Regions from separate parts of the Homo sapiens genome. Here region 1 is linked to region 2. Evidence: fine-mapped expression QTL. A gene starts in region 2. The other region holds a variant in brackets. All regions are shown on one strand. Distances are from middle to middle.

Region 1 (3,005 bases), 110 kb after region 2:
CATATTAGTGCCTTTCAAAGAGTAGACATTTAAAATGTTGGTGAAGTCCAATGTATCAATTTTTTTCCTTTACGACTCATGCATTTTATGTCCTATTTAAGAAAATTTTTGCTTAACCCAAGGTTAGAAAAAGTTTCTTCCAAGTTTTCTTTCTGAAGTTTGAAAGTTTTAGTCTTCCATTTAGCTCTACGATCCATGTCGAGTTAATTTTTTTTTTTTTTTGGAGACGGAGTCTCGCTCTGTCGCCTAGGCTGGAGTGCAGTGGCGCGATCTCGGCTCACTGCAACATCTGCCTTCCCGGTTAAGCAGTTCTCCTCAGCCTCCCAAGTAGCTGGGCTTACAGGCACCTGCCATCATGACCAGCTAATTTTTATATTTTTAGTAGAGACGGGGTTTCACCTTGTTGGCCAGGCTGGTCTCAAACTCCTGGTCTCAAGAGATCCGTCTGCTTCAGCCTCCCAAAGTGCTGGGATTACAGGTGTCAGCAACCACACCCCGCTCAAGTTAATTTTTATCTAGGGTATGAGGTAAGAATTAAAATATTGAAAAAGTTCTTTTTGGTAATGTCTTTAACTGGTTTTGGTATCAGGGTAATTCTGGCCTCATCAAATGTGTTAGCATTGTGCCAGGCACTGTAGAGAATATAAAAGTCAGATCTAATCCCTGCTGGACTCTCTCTCTCGCTCTCACACACATCCCCCAAGTATGATGAAGGCAGAGTTTGGTGAGCATAGAAGAGAAGTGCATATGAACTGCTATGGGCTTTCAAAGAAGGGTGAAGGCCTGGGAAGCCTCAGAATCATCTTCATGAAGGAGGGACACTCAGGAAGGGCCTTAGGAGGGCTGCACCATTGCCTCACTCTGGGGGCACCATTCAAATGACAGTCAGTTGAGTGATCCAGGGCCACGTCGCCTGCAACATGGAGGGTACCCGTCTGGAGTTTTTAAAAAAAGTGGCCCTGCTAAACAAGAAAAGGTCTACTAGCTGAGAGACTATCAGCCGGTAGAGATGGGGAAAGGTGGGTGGGGTGGACAAGAAACCATGTACTGGGCGAGAGAGAATTCTATTAAAGTATGCCTTTGCCTCGCCAACCTCTGAATTAAACTCCCATTGTTCTGCATCCTTCCCACACTGATTATGGTGCCGGAGGGCCCTGGAGAGGAAGGTGGGAAGGAGGGGGACCAGCCGTCATGGAGCCCCTCATCTCTGTGCTCGAGCCCCAGCATCCATCATCTCATTTAGTCCTCTCACCAACTCTGTAAGAGCAGCTTCATTATTTGCATTTTTGCAGATTAAAAAATGAGATTCATAAAGGTTAAGT[G/A]CCCTGCCTGGGGTCAGCCGCTAGTGAGCAGGGGAGCCTAGTTGCAGTCCAGCCCCCTGGCTGCCTTTGGCCCCTGCAACACTATCTCTCACTGCTCTGACAAAATGTCATTTCTGAGGAAGGCAGGCACACAGACCCAAAAGGAATGGGTGCCGGGGGGGAGGCCAGGATGAGATATTTGTGAGTGGGTTTGTTCTGATGTAGCAAAAACTCTCTCGTTGCTGTGGGCTGGGAAGTGGCTGACTGGCTGCGTGGTCAGAGTTTGCAAAGCTTTTGCAGATCCTTTTGCTAGAGGGGCTTTAAAAGCTGCAAGCGCTCAGCAGTTCCTATCAGCTGGGATTTTTTTCCTCCAGATTGAATCCTGTCAGGGTTTTACTGGCTCATCTGTTCCCAGAATGACACCATGTCCCCTCACCTGAGCAGCACGGCCTTGCCACCCACGGTACTCCCTGCTACCAGACGGCTCCCGGAAGGAATTCTTCACCAGCCCTATTTTTTGTCCCCTGAACCCCTCTCCTGACTCTCTCAAAACCCTCTGGTTTCTCCCAGAATTTGGAGCCAAGCCCATCAGGGACAAAGGAATGCTGGGACCTTGTTTGGATCTCAGATTTGGTGGTTTGCTCCCCTTCCTGGTGTCATGGTTTGAAGCATTTTCGAAGGAGCCCCCGAAAAGCAAGGACAGTGTGGAGAGGCTGATGCCCAGAGGCGATGCGGTGTGTCTGGGAAACCAGAGGGGACCCTGCCTGCAAGTTCCCATTGCCCCCAACCCCATTCCTATCCCTATGAGCCCCTGGCCCTTCTTCGCCAGTGCCTGTATCCTCAGAGCCCTCTCAGGGAGCCTCACCCGCCAGCCTCTGGGCGTTTGGCTTCCCGTCTTTTGTTTGGTCACCATGGGCCCTGCCACTGCCAACTCAGGCAAACAGAGCTTGGGCCAGCCCTGGGCTGCCCAGCCTCCCGGACGCATTGCACACTGCTCTGTGTCAGCAGAAAAAGTGTACATGACAAGTGGCATACTAGAGCGCCCTCTCCCCCCAGGCCTAGCTACAAAGCCTCCATGCCCTGCTGAGCCCTGCCCACCGGGCCCAGCGTACTCTCCGTACTCTCCGCTCCGCCAGCAGTGTTTCAGGAATCCTGAGGTGCAGCTCAGGTGGCTCTCGGTGACGTCATGGGAAGTGTTCTGGGTCGGTTCCCTTTGCCTCCCTGCCTCCACCTCCTTCCCAGACTTGCCGAGGATGTTGCCTCCAAGCCCCTCCCAGCTCCCAAAATACCAACCCTGCCTCCTGGCCCTGCCAGAAAACGCTTAGCACATTAGCGGGTTTAGCTGCCACAGTGGCAGTCAGTTGGGAGGCTGCAGAGGCACATAGATTTCATTCTGGAATTCTTTCCAGCTCCTCGCTATTTTGACAACACTGGGCAATGCTGTTACCAGGAACCTGCCCTGCCTGTGGGATGGGAGAGGCTGGGGGCCGGGGGTGGGGATGGGAAAAAGGTAAGCGGGGCTGGTGGGAGCAGCCTCAGGGTAAGGGACTATGAGAGAAGGTGGGGGACTACACTGGTATCTCATGGTGCTGCAGCCACTTTGGTCTTTAACTTGGTCTTTAACATGGCTGGCCTCCCTCCTTGCCTCCTGGAGCTCACTTGGGGCAGATCTTAGATACAAGAGACCTCAGTGCAGGGGCTTCT
Region 2 (2,736 bases):
AGGACCCCCAGGCCTGGTTACCCACAGAACACCACCTCAGGCCGGGCGCGGTGGCTCACGCCTGTAATCCCAGCACTTTGGGAGGCCGAGGCGGGCGGATCACGAGGTCAGGAGATCGAGACCATCCTGGCTAACACGGTGAAACCCCGTCTCTACTAAAAATACAAAAAATTAGCCGGGCGAGGTGGTGGTCGCCTGTAGCCCCAGCTACGCGGGAAGCTGAGGCAGGAGAATGGCGTGAACCCCGGGGGCGGAGGCTGCAGTGAGTCGAGATCGTGCCACTGCACTCCAGCCTGGGCGACAGCGAGACTCCGCCTCAAAAAAAAAAAAAAAAAAAAAAAAAAAAGAACACCACCGCGACTCTAATTTCCATCGTTATTTAAAATCAGAGTTTGGGACTTTGGAATTGTTTCCTCTAGGAAGCCGTCCCCTCAGTTTTCTTTGCTTCTGGCTGCGCTGCTGGAGTCACAAGACAATGCCTGTAGAACACCATGGTGAAAGGCGTCATGGTTTCTGAAGCCCCCGGGGAGCCCACGAGGCGTGGCTTTCTCGCTAACTCACAACTCAGAGTGGAGGCGAGGGCCAAACCCAGGCCCCATCACTTGCTAGTTGTGCGCTACCCCGACGGACAACCAAACTGCACCCCTTTCTGCGTCTGACAAGGACATCATAGCGCTGGCAAATGTTAGCGCCTGTGAAGCCGGCAGCACAGAGCCGGCCACTTCGTAAGCTTCAACCACACCTAACCTGTTATGCTGACCTGAACATTCACAGGGGACACCGCCCCAAGGCCCGCAGCCCAGCCCCCGCCAGGTGTCGGGTGGGGCCTTCAGCAGCAGGTCTCAGAGAAGCGCTTAGAGAAACGCCCTCAGCGGCGACACTCGGGGTGCCCTCCCTGCGTGTTTACGGTTGCAGCACTGATCCGGCCGGAGGGCCCCACGCGCCCCAGAACGGGCGGAGCGCGCCGGCCCAGCTGCCACCTAGGCCCGGTGGCGCCGGCGTTCCACGTGCTCACTCCTCCCCGCCCCTCCCCGCCCCTTTCCCTGGCCTTCCTCGCCGCGCCTGTCTCCCACCCCGAGCTCTGCAGCGGGAGCGCGGCAGCCCTCGAATCGATGCCAGTAGGCACCCCAGGCAGCACAGTCTTACCTGTTCAGCGTGTCCCTTCCGGATTCCCCTCCGGCTCAGCTCTGCAGGAGTTGGAGCGAAGCGTGCAAGGACCCGGAAAGACCAAGGTGTAGCGTCAGCCAGTTAGGTGGATGCGTTTTGGTGTTGTAGCAGCCGATAGGGCTATAGCGGCCGTTCTTTCCTTCTCACTGGACGCGGCTTCTGTCTGTCGACGTCAATAGGGACGATCTCATGAAGAAGGCGGGGAGTGGGGCTTCGGCTCCTCCCAGGCCTGGCCTGTCTGGGGCGGATGCACGTGGAGGCTGGTCATGGAGCGCTTGGGGGTGGGGCCAGGCGCACGCGGGGGCGGGGCCGGGGGCTGCTCCCGGAGCAGCGGAACTGTCTGGAGACCCTTTCGTGAGAGACCGTGTCTTCCTCCCTCCGCAGGGTGATGCGGCCCTGGAGAAGTCCTCTCGCTGTAGTGGAAAGAGCGAAGGAGTCTGTGAGGCGAGGGACAGAAGTAACGTGATGTTACGACTGGCGGCGAAGTCTTCGGCAGTGGCCTCAGGCGGCCGAGGCCGCTGCCCTGGGTCTGCGTTCAGGGTGTAGCGTAGCGAGCCCTGACCGTGAAACCGGGGGGCCTCCGTGTTGGCTCCAGTACTGCTGCTTGCTGTGGGACCTAGGGCGAGTCTCTTCCCTTCTCTGTGCCTTGATTTCTTCTGTTGAGAGAAGGAATCGGATCTATCATTCTCATGTCCTCTCCAGCTTAGAGTTTGTTCAGACCACCAATATTTCTAGAATGACCTATGTGTGCTGTGCCTGTCCCAGGTATCAGCTGACGGTTATGAGATCTTATGAAAGGAAAACGGAAGCCTCTGATGGGCTTGTGTCCCGAAGAGACAGTTTGTGAGGACAGCTGGATTCACAGAGGCTAGGCTTGTTGGGGTCCAGCAGTAGGCCTGGTGTGTCATGCGGCTCCGTAACACAGGCCCCTGCCCGCGGCTTGGACCCGTTAGAAAGCAGGCGGTGGGGTTCACCCATTGCACGCCGTGCGAAGGCATTTCAGCTCTTAACCAGGAAGCTAGGATTTCAGGCTAAACTCCTGGCTCTCAGGAGTTTATAGATAAATGCAGTATGTGGAGCGGGGCCGGGTGATGAGGGAAATGAGAGAAGTGGGCATAGTCAGAATAAAGAACCGCTTCATGAAGCTTGAGCGGCCTTGAAGAGAAGGCAGAGAAAAATTCTAGCTGAACAAACAACGTGACTGGAGGCCGGTTCAAGCCGGCTGGATGGGAGGGGAGTCTTGGAAGGAAAACTCAGCAGGGTGGGTTGGGGCTTGGTGACGCAGCAATTGCCAGGGAAAGAGTAGTCAGGCCGGGTGCAGTGGCTCACGCCTGAAATCCCAGCACATTGGGAGGTTGAGGCGGGTGGATCACTTGAGGCTAGGAGTTCCAGACCAGCCTGGCCAACATGGCGAAACCCCCAACTCTACTAAAAATACAAAAAATTAGCCGGGCGTGGTGGCGGGCGCCTGTAATCCCAGCTACTCAGGAGGCTGAGGCAGGAGAATTGCTTGAACCCGGGAGGCGGGGGTTGCAGTGAGCCGAGATAGCGCCATTGCACTCCAGCCTG

The links.
Region 1: its variant is fine-mapped to the expression of DCAF4 in tibial artery (GTEx, PIP above 0.99).

Annotation. Positions count from the first base shown.
Region 1 is chr14:72,812,028-72,815,032 of GRCh38, reverse strand. The region is part of intron 1 of DPF3 (double PHD fingers 3); the gene reads left to right. Among named protein-coding and RNA genes, the nearest start is that of DPF3, 81 kb to the left of the region's middle. The variant G/A (reference allele first, on the strand shown) is at 1,323.
Region 2 is chr14:72,924,954-72,927,689 of GRCh38, reverse strand. It overlaps DCAF4 (DDB1 and CUL4 associated factor 4), which reads right to left and starts at 1,226. Exons shown (of 14, transcript NM_015604.4): 1 at 1,147-1,226. RefSeq lists enhancers at 1-516, 1,188-1,457, 1,748-1,847, 2,248-2,736 and a silencer at 958-1,017.